Homo sapiens: one gene and its partner. The protein of the gene in region 2 purifies or fractionates together with the protein of the main gene of each other region. This does not show direct contact. Each region holds a gene or a part of one and is shown on either strand. Other genes may lie near its edges.

Region 1 (7,027 bases), on a different chromosome or scaffold from region 2:
CTGAGTGGACATTTTTCAAAAGAAGACATACATGTGGCCAATAGGTATGTGAAAAATGCTCGACATCGCTAATCATCAGGGAAATGCAAATTAAAACCACAGTGAAATATCACCTCAAACCTGGTAGAATGTCTACCATCAAAAAGGCAAAACATAAGTGGTGGCAAGGATGTACAGAAAAGGAAATCCTTGTATACTGTTGGTGGGAATATTAGTTAGCATAGCTATTATGGAAAATAGCATGTTGGGCCAGGTGCAGTGGCTCACGCCTGTAATCCCAGCACTTTGTGAGGCTGAGGCGGGCGGATCACGAGGTCAGCAGATCGAGACCATCCTGGCTAACACGGTGAAACCCCGTCTCTACTAAAAATACAAAAAAATTATCCGGGCATGGTGGAGGGCGCCTGTAGTCCCAGCTACTTGGGAGGCTGAGGTAGGAGAATGGCGTGAACCCAGGAGGTAGAGCTTGCCATGAGCCAAGATTGCTCCACTGCACTCCAGCTTGGGTGACAGAGCAAGACTCCGTCTCAAAAAAAAAAAAAAAAATTTATGTTGGCTCCTCAAAAAATTAGAAATAGAACTACCACATGATCGAAGAATCCCATTTCTGGGTATATATCCAGGGAAAATGAAATCAGTATGTTGAAGAGATAGCTGCATTCCTGTGTTCACCACAACATTACAATAGCCAATATATGGAATAAACCTAAGTGTTCATCAATGAATGAATGGATAAAGAAAATGTGGTGTATAAACACAATGGAATACTATTCAGCCTCAAAAAAGAAGGAAATTCTGTCATTTGCAACAACATGGATGAACCTGGAGGACATTACATTAGGTGAAATAAACCAGGCACAGAAAGGCAAGTACTGCATGATTTCACTCCTACATGAAATCCAGAGAAGCTGAACCCACTGAAGCACAGTAGGCTGGTAGTTGCCGGAGGCTGGGGGTAGGAGGATTTTGGAGATGTTGGTCAAAGGATACAAACTTTCAATTAGACAGGAGGAATAAGTTCAGGAGATTTATTGTACATCATGATGACTACAGTTAGTACTAATATATTGTATACTGAAAGTTGCTAAAAGAGTAGATTTTAATTATTTTTGCCACACAAAAATGATAAATATGTGAGGTAATACATGTGTTAATTAGCTTGATTTAGGCACCCTATAATATACATGCATATCAAAATATCATGTTGTATACCATACATAAATATATACAATTTTAATTTTTCATTGAAAATAATTTTAAAAAGAAAACTTCAATAAAAGTAAGTCTAGCACTGAAAACCATCTCAGAAGTCTTTTAGTTTAATACTTATCCAACACAAGCCAAATTCTTTTATCACATCACCAATATGTAACTGTTCAATCTCTTCTTGAACACTTTAAGTAACGGAGACTCACTTCCCAACAAGAACTCTGAAGGAACATTCTGTTTTCCTTCTCTCTCGCTACCTTTCCATTTCACCCCCTTTCTTCTGTCTCAGAACCACTTTACTCAGGGTCTCCACATTTTCTGAAATATCTGTGTGTGAGTGCAGAGACAACACAATGTAAGAAGGCGATGGAATGCTCTTTCCAAACATAAGGCACTGGCAGCTAGCAGGGTGCATGCACACCTAGTTAGGCCGGCCAAAAATAAGGTGATGGAAAAAGAACATCTGAAACAGGCCCTGAAAGCTGGATCATATTTTGATGGGTGAAGAAGGGGTGGGAACAGTATGAGAAAAGTCATGAAAGCACTCTCAGGAAGCAAAATGAGTATTCTGTTTGGCAGGAGTTTCAAATATTTGTAGAGGGTAGTAGGGTTAGAAGAACAAACTGAGGCCGTCTTAGGGAAGGCTTGAAGACTCCAAGGGTTCCTGTACTGGGCAATGACAAACCAAGAAAAACGGAGACTAGGAAAGTAGCGTGATCATGCAGGTGTCCTGGCACACTGTATCACAACATCTGGCTGTTAATGGAAGAAGAAATAATTTCCTCTATTATTTATCTCACAGTTGGAGCAACTGACATTACGCATAAAACAACATGTATTTGATTTTTACAGAAAAGCACCTTCTATACACGAATTAAGTGTCTGCACTTCATGTCAACATTATAACAAATCTGTGAGGGCATAAAGATGAACAGAACATTGTTTTAACTTCAACCAGTTTACAGTGTACTGGGAGAAGTTGACTTAATGTAATAAATGAGGAAGAACAAAATAAGTTTTAAATAGTAATAGACTGAGTTCACATGGAAGAATAATTAATTTGACTGAAGAGACCTGGGAAAACTCCACGTAAAAAGTGTCATTTTTACTAAGCCTTAAAGGATATGTAAATTCTGAAGGGTAAATAAAGTAAGGGGAAAAATATTCCAAGACATAGGCACAGTATAAAGTGATGGCCTAAATTAAATCTCCAGAACCGTATATGAGTGTTTCTGAGAGAGACAGAGAATGTGTGTGCTTGTGCTGTTCTTTTATGTGATGGTCACTCAAGTGAGGCCAGAGAGGAGACACAGGAGAGTCTCAGGAAAACAAAGTTTATTATACTCACAGGTCCTGGAGACAAGAGGCATGCCACGCTGCACAGGGCCACGTGTGGAAGCCTCAGGGTGTCAGCAGCAAGGGGAAGGCGTAGGCTAGAGCATTTACTGAATTTCCTCAAGGAAGGCAAGGCAGGGCATGGTAAACAGGTTAAGATTGGCCAGTTTGAATAACTCCAGCAGGCTCTAAACTGTATGAGTGGTCCCCAGTTGCTGGGTACCTGGCCCTGGGATGATTAAGGCAGAGGAATATTGTACAGGCCAGAGACGAGGAGATACGTATGGCTCAGGATTGGTTAGTGTGCATATTAAAGGCGTGCTCCTGGCCAAGCCCTTTGCTATCTCTGAACACTGGCTGGTCACAGGAGGGGCAGTCTCCCCAGCCAGAAAGGATTTTAAGATGTCAAAACATTATAACATATAGAAGATAAAAAACAGAAACAATACAAGGTATGTGTGTGTTGAGAGGAGGGAGGGAAAGAAAGGAAAATAATTTTTTTCAATATTTGTATTTATTTACCATTGTTACACTGTCTTCACAGAACATTAAGTTCCTGGAGGGCAGAAATGTCACCTTTTGAAGATTAATCTTTAGTGTGCATAATATAGTATAATTAATAAAGTATAACTAATTATTCAACTAGTTGCCAAGTCATCATAATTTTTTTTAATGACTTTTGAAGAATTAAAAAAACACAAAATGAATACAGAATAGTTACTGTCTGAAGCTGAGATTAAGGCATCTCTGTCCAGGCCATACAATAGAAGGATAATTAAACTGTGGCTCATTCACATTCATATTCCTTCCTTCACTCAATAGCCATTATTTAACACTCACCATGTGCTAAGTACTTTGAAGACAATAAGGGATATAAAAGTGAATAAAGGATGTTCTTCGTACTCAAGAAGCTCACAGTCAAGGCAAAGCATGTTAAAGAAACTTGTCTAACTGCCTATATGTGCCACTTCATTCAGGATTTTTCTGATTGCTTCCTCATAGCATCATTTAATTTGTTTTTCTACCTTGTCTCCCCTCACTCCCCACCCACTTTCACTTTCTGTAAACTAAAAAGTTAGAGCTCAAGGCTTAATGAGATTCAGGATCAACTCTTTGGGCAAGAATATTTCAAGATGGTGCTGTACATTTGACATCTTATCACATTAGGAAGCCAGAGAATCTGGTTATCTAACTTTTAATGATGATAATCAGCGGGGTTCAGGAGGAGGCAGCCTGATCCTTCCACTGTCAAGTTTCTATCAACCTTTCCCATAACATTAATATTACTGATGATCACTGCCTGAGTCAATTATTTTAAGCAGAGTGTCTTTAAGTTCTATTATTCTCTCCACACGTACTAGCTGGAATTCTCTGGTAGAGAACAGCTCTCCCTCATTGACCAGGGCTGTTTGATTACTCTGAGATATAGTCCCTTTAGGGCAGGCAGGATAAAAGCTTATTTCATTCCCATTAATTATCAATTTTCAGAGGAAGGAGTTGGTGCCTTAGCACCTTCAAACGGATAACTAATAATTATTTTGCTTGGTTTTATATGTTTGGTTTGCTTGTTCTCTTTCTCATTACCAGGAACTCATAGATTTTTATACATTCAATGTGGTTTAATCCATTGTAGTCACTCCTGTTGATGTTAGAATGTGGTGCTCTGGTCAGTGTCCTTGAAGCTGATTTCTGTGTCCTTTCACATGACCCTATTGGTTTTACTATTCCAGACCTGGAATCAGAAATTTCTTTGAAGAGCCCTGACACCTTCTGGAAGGAAGTAATATTTCGAAACAACAATCTGGGTGATATAGATGCTTACTGCTACTGAGTTAGTCACTTTTATTTTTATGTCCTTTCAGGGCAAGAGTGAGAAACTCTATTTTTTGTTTTTATACCTAAGAAACAAAACATGAACTAATTCTGATATTTCCACTTAATCTTATGTAGTTTTAACTTATTAGATTTGATTTTTTTCCCCTTACACTAAGGTTTTGGTTCCAACCACGTTTATCTAATTTCATATTTATTATATCCACAACAGTAGAAAAATTACAATGCCAACAGTAGAAAAATTAAAATGCCAACATTACTACAAACAATAAAACCAATGAATGAAGTTTATAATGTCTTGCAGTTCTTTTTGTCCTTAAAATATAACCCACTAAGAGTGTTCAGTTCAAGCAGCGGGCTTTGAAGTCACTCTAATTTTTTTTCTAAGTAATTATGTGACAATATGATATTCAATTACATACATTTATTTCAGCTAGTTTCCAAATTCTATAATTTTTAAAAATTTTTATTTTTTGCCCATTTTTCTAGTGTTAATCTTGTACTTCTTAATTTTTAGGAGCTCTTCATAAAATAACCTTCCTGTCATTCTGGTGTCAACAATTTTTTTCTGAGTTGTTTTTGTATCTTTCTATTTGCTTGTGTTGTATTTAAACCTTGTAAAATGTTTTTTATTTTTATGTAGTTTAATTAATTGCTTTTGGGTTTTTAGGCATAATTGAAAGATTTCTCTTTTCCTAGATTATAAAGAAATCCATACAAATTTTCTTCTGGTACTTGAATCATTATATTTTTACATTTAAATTTCTAATACATTTGGAATTTATCCTGGTGTATGCTGTAAGGTACAGACTCAGTTTTGTATTTTTCCAAATGGCTACCAGTTGCCCCAACACCATTTATTTAGGAATTCACTCAAATAGCTGACTTGAGATTATCATCTTTATCATATCCTAGATTTCATATACAATTGGATTTAATCCTAGACTTAGAATCTTAAATCTGTCCCATTGGTCTATTGGGCTGTTAGGTATCAATACCATCAACACCATACTGTTTGAAATGTTGACTTCAATGTTTTAAAATCAGGGAGAGCTCGCTCCATCCCCCCACTCATCTCCCCCACCTCCAACCCCTACTAATATCACACTTCTTTGCCAGGATTTTCCCAGCTATTCTTTCTTGCATATTTCTTTCCATGAGCCTTACACTCAACTTGTCTAGATCAGAGAGTAAGGGAGAAGTGGGGAGGGGAGGGGAAAAGAAACCAGTGGTATTTATTTAGTGGTCACCTTAAATGTAGAGATTTTTTTTCTAAGAGCTTTATGTTGAATCTTCTTATCCAACAACAGGGTGTATATTTCCATTTGTTTGAGTCTATTTTTATGCCTTTCAGGAGTTTTTAAACATTTTCTTTATATAGGTTTTGCCCATTTCTCGTGAATTTTATTGCAAACAATTTTATATTCATTTGTTGCTACTGTAAGTTGGGGTCTTGCAGTAAGTCTAACAAGACTTACTACCAGTTGTGTATATGAAGGTTATTGTATACATGAAGGCTATTGTATATATGAAGGCTACTGATTTCTCAGGCTATTTTTTAACCCACTTAAAGGCAAACAGTTTTCTTCAGCTTATAAAAAATCTATATTACAAATAAAGATTTTTTATTTGTAATATAATTTTGTTTGGTGGAAGGAACAGCATCCACAGTACCTAGTCTTGCTAAACAAGAATATTCCCACTGCGGAACTGAAGTGTGTATGTATCACAAGGAAGGGCAAACACTCACCTTTGTGTATTCGTCTTTGGCCTTGATGAGCATTCGTAAAATGTCTACTTCTTTGCCCTCTCCTGAATTGAGGATCACTGGGGAAATTCCTGCTCCAGTTCCCTGATGGGCTTTCAACTGTTCATACTGAGTTAGGCTAGAAAAACAGAGGGGAAAATCCACACAAGAAAAGCCAATTCAACACAAACAATGTTTAAAACCATCCCAATTCTCACCTAGTTGTTTTCATCCTGTTACAACCATATTAGAAATAAGCTTGCTTAGGAATTTAAAGGAGAAAAATGAGAGTTGAGGTCCTGAATTCACTGACTACACAAATGAATCTAGGATAGGGGTCAGCAAATCTGTGGGCCAAGTCCAGCCCACCACCTGTTTTTTGTAAAGAAAGTCACAAACACAGCCAAGCTCAACACAGCCATGCTCCTTTGTTTACATGTTGTTTATGGCTGCTTTCACATTACAAGGGCAGAATTCTATAGTCGGAACACAAATCCTATGGACTGCAAAGCCTAAAATACTCACTCTCTGGTCCCTTTGAGAAGAGTTTGCCAACTCCTCACACAGTGCATTCTAAAGGATGCTCTCATTAGTTGCTAAGGAAACCCAATTTAGAGTTCTGAAATACTGAGGAAAGAACCCCCTACTTTACAGACTGCCTTGAAGTCAAGGCAAGGTTGATTCTGGCAACTCAAATCCTGCAGCTCTCTGGCAGTTTCAAAACATGGTAAAGATTCCATTCTAACTCGGAGAAGAGGGGCCATTTAAAAAACCACTTAGAGCAACGAGGAGTTCTTCTGTTGCCTGGAAAACAATACAAAGATAGACCAGATTGCTCCTATATGCTGCTAGGTGATGTCGAGGAAAATATACTTTCCCTTTATGTGCTGTAACTTTCAGCTC
Region 2 (7,301 bases):
GAAAAACTAAACCTACATTTTTTAAAAAGATATCAGAACAAACAATTTTAAGTCAATTTTAAAAAATAAAAAATAGACAACAATGTATCACTAAGACTCAATGAGACTCATCTTTCCCACCATTTTAGAGAGCCAGATCTGCCCTTGAGTCCTTACCTTACTAACATTGAGTGAAGCTAGGGGAGGAGGGGTTTCTGTTCGGTCATTAATTATTTCCACTTCTGAAACATACTGTAAGTTTATGAGCAAGATGTCTGCATGGTTGGGCTTTCCACTGGAAGAGGGACATTCTGGTGAGAAAAAAAAAAGTTAAGGAAAAATAGGACAAGCAGAGGCACTGACACATCCCAAAAGGGGCATAGAAAACACGATTCACACAAGGCTTGTAAAAGGCAGGCCAGGAGCATGAGGGCCTTATAAGAATCACGGTTCTCCTCAGGAAATCTCTGCCTGTCACCTTCCTCCTGCCCAAATCCTTGGAAGCTTCCAAAGGAGTTCTGTCACTTTCTCTCTACTGGCTTTATGGAGAGGCATAATGCAGATTTAATGCGTTTGTCTTGAACCTATGAGCCAGACAAAAGAGCTAGACCTTTCTGTTCTTCGTATAATACTCTCTGTGTCTGCACAGTATTCTTTTTACTCTTTCAGATGTGAGCTTTCCCATTTTGCAGAGGAGAAAACTACACACTGGAAAGGAAATTCACCCAAGGTGACCCAGCCAGTTAATCCATTCATTCATTCACAAACTCATTCTCCAACCATTTAAGAGCCTACTGTATGTCAAGTAAAAGTTGAGTAATTCAGCCAGGCTCACGTGATGGCTCACGCCTGTAATCTCAACACTTTGGGAGGCTGAGGCGGGCAGATTACTTGAGGTCAGGAGTTCAAGACCAGCCTGGCCAAAGTGGCAAAACCCCGTCACTACCAAAAAAAAAAAAATTAGCCGGGTGTGGTGGCACATGCCTGTAATCCCAGCTACTCTGGAGCCTGAGGCAGGAGAATCACTTGAACACGGGAGGCGGAGGTTGCAGTGAGCCGAGATGGTGCCACTGCACTCCAGCCTAGGTGACAGAGCGAGACTCCGTCTCAAAAAAAAAAAAAAAAAAGTAATTCCTAGTTACAAGACCCTTCCAACTAAACCACTAATGTAAAAGGTCTTATTTCTTCCAGGTGTAACCTCTTATTTTTTTAAAAAAGCAACTATTCTTAGGCCGCGCGGTGGCTCACGCTGGTAATCCCAGCACTCTGGGAGGCCGAGGCGGGTGGATCACGAGGTCAGGAGATCGAGACCATCTTGGCTAACACGGTGAAACCCCGTCTCTACTAAAAATACAAAAAATTAGCCGGGCACGGTGGCGTATGCCTGCAATCCCAGCTACTCGGGAGGCTGAGGCAGAAGAATCGCTTGAATCCGGGAGACGGAAGTTGCAGTAAGCCGAAATCACGCCATTGCACTCCAGCCTGGGCAATAAGAGTGAAACTCCGTCTCAAAAAACACAACAAAAAAAAAAGCCGGGCGGTGGCTCAGGCCTGTAATCCCAGCACTTTGGGAGGCTGAAGCCAGCGGATCACGAGGTCAGAAGTTCGAGACCATCCTGGCCAACATGGTGATACCCCATCTCTGTTAAAAAAAAACATATACAAAAATTAGCTGGGCGTGGTGGCGCGTGCCCGTAATCCCAGCTACTCCGGAGGCTGAGGCAGGAGAATCGCTCGAACCAGGGAGTCGGAGGTTGCAGTGAGCCGAGATTGCGCCACCGCACTCCATCCTAGCGACAGAGCGAGACTCCATCTTAAAAAAAAAAAAAAAAAAAAGATGCCATAAAAAATTACTCCTCCAAAAAAAAATTCCAATAAACCCACCTGTGGCTCACATAAAAAGGGAAGCCGTGGCACATTTATCCCAACAAGGAAGTGTTTCATTTCCAAGACTGAGTTTCCTGGAGTAATTCAGAAGTCACTTCCACCCCAAAGAAGCAGGCCACCTTTTCCAATCAGTTTAACATTGCTACTTTCAAAAGGGAGGCTGCTACTACGTAAAAGGACTCCATGTGCTGGACTGATCAAGGCAGCATGAGAACTTCACTCTTTCACCTGTAACTCACACATCCCCAAACCACATAAGCCCCTGGCAAGCCCTCTCTGGAACAGGTTTCCAGTGCAAACATCCCCTAAACAGCAACTTCCAAATGACCGAGAAGCCTAAAAATCAGCACAGCCCCCCCACCACACATACACACGCATCAGCGAAACAAGCCACTATCCCTAGCTCAGATACAAACTCTGCCCTGAACTTACTCTCCCCCAAAACAGGCAAGGACCAATTTGGTCACCATCCCACCGCCCTTCCTTGGACGAAATCCCATCAGTGCACATGCCCTCCTAAATTCCATACCTTTGCCCTACCAGCAGTTCCTTACCCTAAACACCCCTCCCCATAATATTTCACCCGCCCCTCCTTTCCATCCGGGCTCCAATCCATCAGCCCCCTCCCACCACCACCCCCTCTCCTAATTACTGTGTCCCCTCTCATAACGTTCCCCCCAAAAAGCCATCCCCGTGTCAAGCCCTCCTCCACCCACTGATCCTCGGTAAAGCCCCAGCTCCCGCAAAGAGAGAGAGACAGGATCCCCAAAGCTGACCGAAGGGCCCGCGGGAGGGGGAGGGGAGCTCAGGGCCGTGCGCATGCGCCCCGGGCGCCGCGGTAGCCGGTCGCCCCTAGGCCCGGAGAGAGCCCCAGCCGCCGCCGTCGTCCCCCACCCCCCGACCACCGCACCTACACGCCGGCCCGGACTCGGGCTTCACGCAGGGAAGGATACTTAAAGCCAGCATTTTGGATTGGTAGTCAAAGGCTACCACCTCGCCCTGCAGCCGCTGCTCCTGGCACGTCCGGCACGACACCTGGCTCCCAACGCTGAAGTACTCGCCCGGAGGAGCCGCCATCTTGGGAGTGCAGCCGCGGCCGGCGGCGGCGGCGGCAGCAGCGGGCGAAAGCCGGGCCCCCAGTGAGCGCCGCGACGCGACGGCGCGCACGGAGCGTGCTTGCGTCACACGCCGGGGCGTGGCCTGGCGCTGGTTGGGGCGGGATCCTAGGTGGAGTGGGAAAGAAGAGGAAATAAAGGGGAATCTGAAAAGTATTTGTATAGCTGCGTCCGCTCGGTTAAGTGCTTGTAGAGTCCATTTTAGAAGTTAAGGATAAATGACCTACGTGGAATGAAAAGGGGAAAGAGGAGGGAGCTGCAGTCTCCATTATATGCACACCTTCCACACAAGAGTTTAATGAATGAATTTTATAAAATATGTTAACCCCATTTTGCATATGAGGAATCAGAGCCTCAGAGGACTTAACGATACTTGGACAAGATGATTATAAGGCTGGGAGCGGTGGCTCACGCCTGTAATCCCAGCACTTTGGGAGGCCGAGGCGGGTGGATCACCTGAGGTCAGGGGTTCGAGACCAGCCTGGCCAACATGGTGAAACCCCGTCTCTACTAAAAATACAAAAATTAGCCGGGTACGGTGGCGCGTGCCTGTAATCCCAGCTACTAGGGGGACTGAGGCTGGAGGATCTCTTGAACCTGGAAGGCGGAGGTTGCACTGAGCCAAGATTGTGCCACTGCACTCTAGCCTGGGCAACAGAGCGAGACTCTGTCTCAAAACAAACAAACAAACAAAAAAAGATGATTATAACTACTGAGTGATAGTGGAAAGAACATTGGCTGTGGAGTTAGATAAGCTGGAACCAGAATCCGAGGTCAGCCTCTTACTAAATCACCTGACCTTGAGCAAGCAAATTACCTGATCCTGTTTCTTCATAGGCATTTGTATTGTCACTTCTTGAGCATCTAACAGCCCTTTGAGGTAGGAATCAATGTCCTCCTTTTACATAAACTAAGTTTTAGACTAAACTTGTCCACGGTTCCACAACTAGCAAAAACAGTCTGCCTATTTCCAAGGACGGTGCTATTTACTGCTATACTCTGTTACATAATAATACCTACCTCATAGTTAGGAGGTTTAAATGCGGTAACGGGTATAAGTGCATGGCATGTACTAGGTCTTTAATAAATGGTAGTTCCCCCTTAGTCACCCATCACTCTTAGAAGTCAAGACACTTCCCCTTCTCCCTTTTTGCCCTCTCTCCCAGAAAGCCAGGCAAAAGGCAGGAATGAGGAGCAGCGGATAGTGACAAAAAGGGGCTTGGAGGAGGGGTTTTGCGCCCCTGCCCTTGAATGTCCGTCTGATGTACAAAACAGTCGTTTTCTTAATCTTATGCAAAGGACTATGAGCGTGCATTTTCAAGCCCTACTACCACCAATGGCTGTCGCTAACCCACCCACCGCTCACTATAGAAATTTTGGATCCTCGCTTCATGTATAAGAAACAGGTTGACCTTTCTCTAGTCCAGAGGGAAGCAAAGGGCCAGTCTTGGCGCGGCTTAACCTGAACAAAGTTCAAAAGTATTTCCTTGCCCTCCAAGAAACATAAACTTCCTGGTGTTGGAAGTATTGATACACTCATTATAATAGGAATAAAAATTCTGCTCCTTCATAGTGTGCTTTTTCAGAGAACTTTTTTTTTTTTTTTTTTGAGATAGAGCCTCGCTCTGTCACCCAGACTGGAGTGCAGTGGCGCCATCTTGGCTCACTGCAACCCGCACCTCCCAGGTTCAAGCGATTCTCCTGCCTCAGCTTCCGGAGTAGCTGGAATTACAGGCACGAGCCACCATGCCCGGCTAATTTTTGTACTTTTAGTACAGATGGGGTTTCACCATGTTGGCCAGGCTGGTCTCAAACTCCTGGGCTCAAGCAATCTTCCCGCCTCGGCTGGCCTCTCAAAGTGCTGGGATTACGGGCGTGAGCCATGTGGCCGGCCTCAGAGAACTTTCATGCCTCTCATCCTTGTTCTGGCCCCCATAATAAATCATACATAATTGCCATTCCAGTTTTCCACTTTTTATATGGAATCGTGATTATAGGTTTTCATATAAGACTTCTAGGAGCCATTAGGAAAGGCCTTCTTGGAGGAAGTGAAAAATCTCTACTGAGACCTGAAGGATTGGCAAGGAAAAAGAGTGGCCATGTTCCAGGCAGAGGGAACTGCACGGGCCAGGACCCCTAAGAGGAGAGAACTTGGTGATTTCAAGGAATGTATAGGTCAGAAATATTACAAAGCGGAGTGTGGGAGTAGGCTGCTTAAGGTTGAGGGCAAACCTCAAAGACTCGGTAAACAATGTAGGCTTTCTCTTCGGCAATTAAAAACTTCCTGGTATTGTCCGGGCACAGTGGCTCACGCCTGTAATCCCAGCACTTTGGGAGACCGAGGCGGGCGGATCACGAGGTCATGAGATCAAGACCATCCTGGCTAACATGGTGAAACCCCGTCTCTACTAAAAATACTAAAAATTAGCCAGGTGTGGTGGTGGGTGCCTGTAGTGCCAGCTACTTGGGAGGCTGAGGCAGGAGAATGGCGTGAACCCAGGAGGCAGAGGTTGCAGTGAGCTGAGATCGCGCCACTGCACTCCATCCTGGGGGACAGAGCGAGACTCCGTCTCAAAAAAAAAAAAACTTCCTGGTGTTGGAGGTATTGGTATAATCATTGTAATAGGAATAAAAATTCTGTTCACTACAAAGGCAATAAACGAAGATTTATATCCAGCTTCCCTCCTTTACACCTTTTTTTTTTTTTGGAGACGGAATTTCTGTCTTGTTGCCCAAGCTGGAATGCAATGGCACAATCTTGGCTCACCACAGCCTCCACGTCCTGGGCTCAAGCGATTCACCTCTCTCAGCCTCCTGAGTAGCTGGGATTACAGGCATGTGCCACCACACCCAGCTAATTTTGTGTTTTTAGTAGAGACACGGTTTGGTTTCTCCACGTTGGTCAGACTAGTCTCCAACTCCTGACCTCAGGTGATCCACCCACCCTGGCCTTCCAAAGTGCTGGGATTACAGGGGTGAGCCACTGTGCCCAGCACCTTTTTTATTTTTTATTTTTTTTTATTTTTTGAGATAGAGTCTCGCCCTGTCGCCCAGGCTGGAGTGCAGTGGTCCCATCTCGGCTCACCGCAACCTCCGCCTCCCGGGTTCAAGCGATTCTCCTGCTTCAGCCTCCCTAGTAGCTGAGACTACAGGCGCGTGCCCCCACGCCCAGCTAATTTTTGTATTTTTAGTAGAGATGGGGTTTAACTATGTTGGCCAGGCTGGTCTGGAACTCCTGACCTTGTGATCCGACCGCCTCGGCCTCCCAAAGTGCTGGGATTACAGGTGTGAGTCGCCGCGCCCGGCAAAAAAAAAAAAAAAAAAAAAACTTTTCAAGAACAAAGTTGATTGAGGTAGGAAGAAACTAAGGAGACACTGTTCAACAGTATTCTAGGCAGGACCTCGCCTAGAATAGCTGAGATTTCTATTTTCTATGTGAGTTCCCCCAGATGACTGTTTCAAACTCTGTCGCGGGTGTGTGCCAATCCTCTTCCCATACCAACACTGTTACTATCTCTTGGTTTCATCTGCCTAAGCAGGGTTTTGGATGGCAGGAGGATGGGGGTGGGGGAAGCAAGGGAAGAACTGGAAGGAAGTGTGACTTTGCGCTATATGTGAGAATTCGCCTTTTTAGGGAAGACCCCTCAAAATCAAGAGACTTATCTGTCAGCCTCCAGATTAATAGCAGGCGAATTAGAAAGGGGGAGTCTTGAGGCTGGGGAGGAAGGAGTGAACTGATTAGGGGTGTATGCAAATTTAGGATCCCGCTTCAGCTCCCAGGAGGAGGGGCTGTCTGCAGCCTTTTCTCCAAAGGATCTCAGATTTATTTATTTTTTTGCTGTTTGTTTTTTTTTTTTTTTTTTTGGTGGGTATTGGTGCTGGAGAAGAGAGGTCCGGTGGGGAAAGAATCCCGGCCCTGGAGATTATATATCCGCCTTCGCATCAGCGGAGCAGGGACGCTGGGAGCGCGCGCGGCCCGCCGGCTAGTCAGTCCCCTGACCCGGAACCGCACTGGTGCCGCCGCTAGCCGGCTGCCCACGTGCCTGCAACAGTGGCCACGTGGGGCCCTGAGGAAACGCCTTTACAAAGGTTTGTCCCCTGCGCTGCCCAGTAGGGAGGAAAACCGGAGGAGAGCGCAGGAGGAAACAGTACCGGCTGGAGGCCGGTCTTGCAGGAGCGGGGGACTGCTGGGGGCGGGGCTTGGTGGTGACCGCTGGCGGGGCGGGGCCTGGGGCTCAGAGGGGTGGGCTTTGGAGATCAGAGGGTCGACGCTGCTTCGTTGCCTGGACTCTGGTTTCCGCCCTGGAGCAAGCCGGGGCC

What was found. The genes of interacting proteins can lie anywhere in the genome.
Region 1: the proteins of LSM12 (region 2) and DCP1B purify together in Homo sapiens (affinity purification with mass spectrometry; 2 studies listed by BioGRID and IntAct, with this or other methods). This does not show direct contact.

Annotation. Positions count from the first base shown.
Region 1 is NC_000012.12:1,959,431-1,966,457, forward strand, and holds part of DCP1B (mRNA-decapping enzyme 1B), read right to left. Parts: intron 6,264-7,027; coding exon 6,128-6,263; intron 1-6,127. UniProt on the Homo sapiens protein: May play a role in the degradation of mRNAs, both in normal mRNA turnover and in nonsense-mediated mRNA decay. May remove the 7-methyl guanine cap structure from mRNA molecules, yielding a 5'-phosphorylated mRNA fragment and 7m-GDP.
Region 2 is NC_000017.11:44,063,645-44,070,945, forward strand, and holds the start of LSM12 (protein LSM12), read right to left. Parts: upstream 3,028-7,301; 5' UTR 2,944-3,027; coding exon 2,820-2,943; intron 291-2,819; coding exon 157-290; intron 1-156. UniProt on the Homo sapiens protein: Nicotinic acid adenine dinucleotide phosphate (NAADP) binding protein. Confers NAADP sensitivity to the two pore channel complex (TPCs) by acting as TPC accessory protein necessary for NAADP-evoked Ca(2+) release.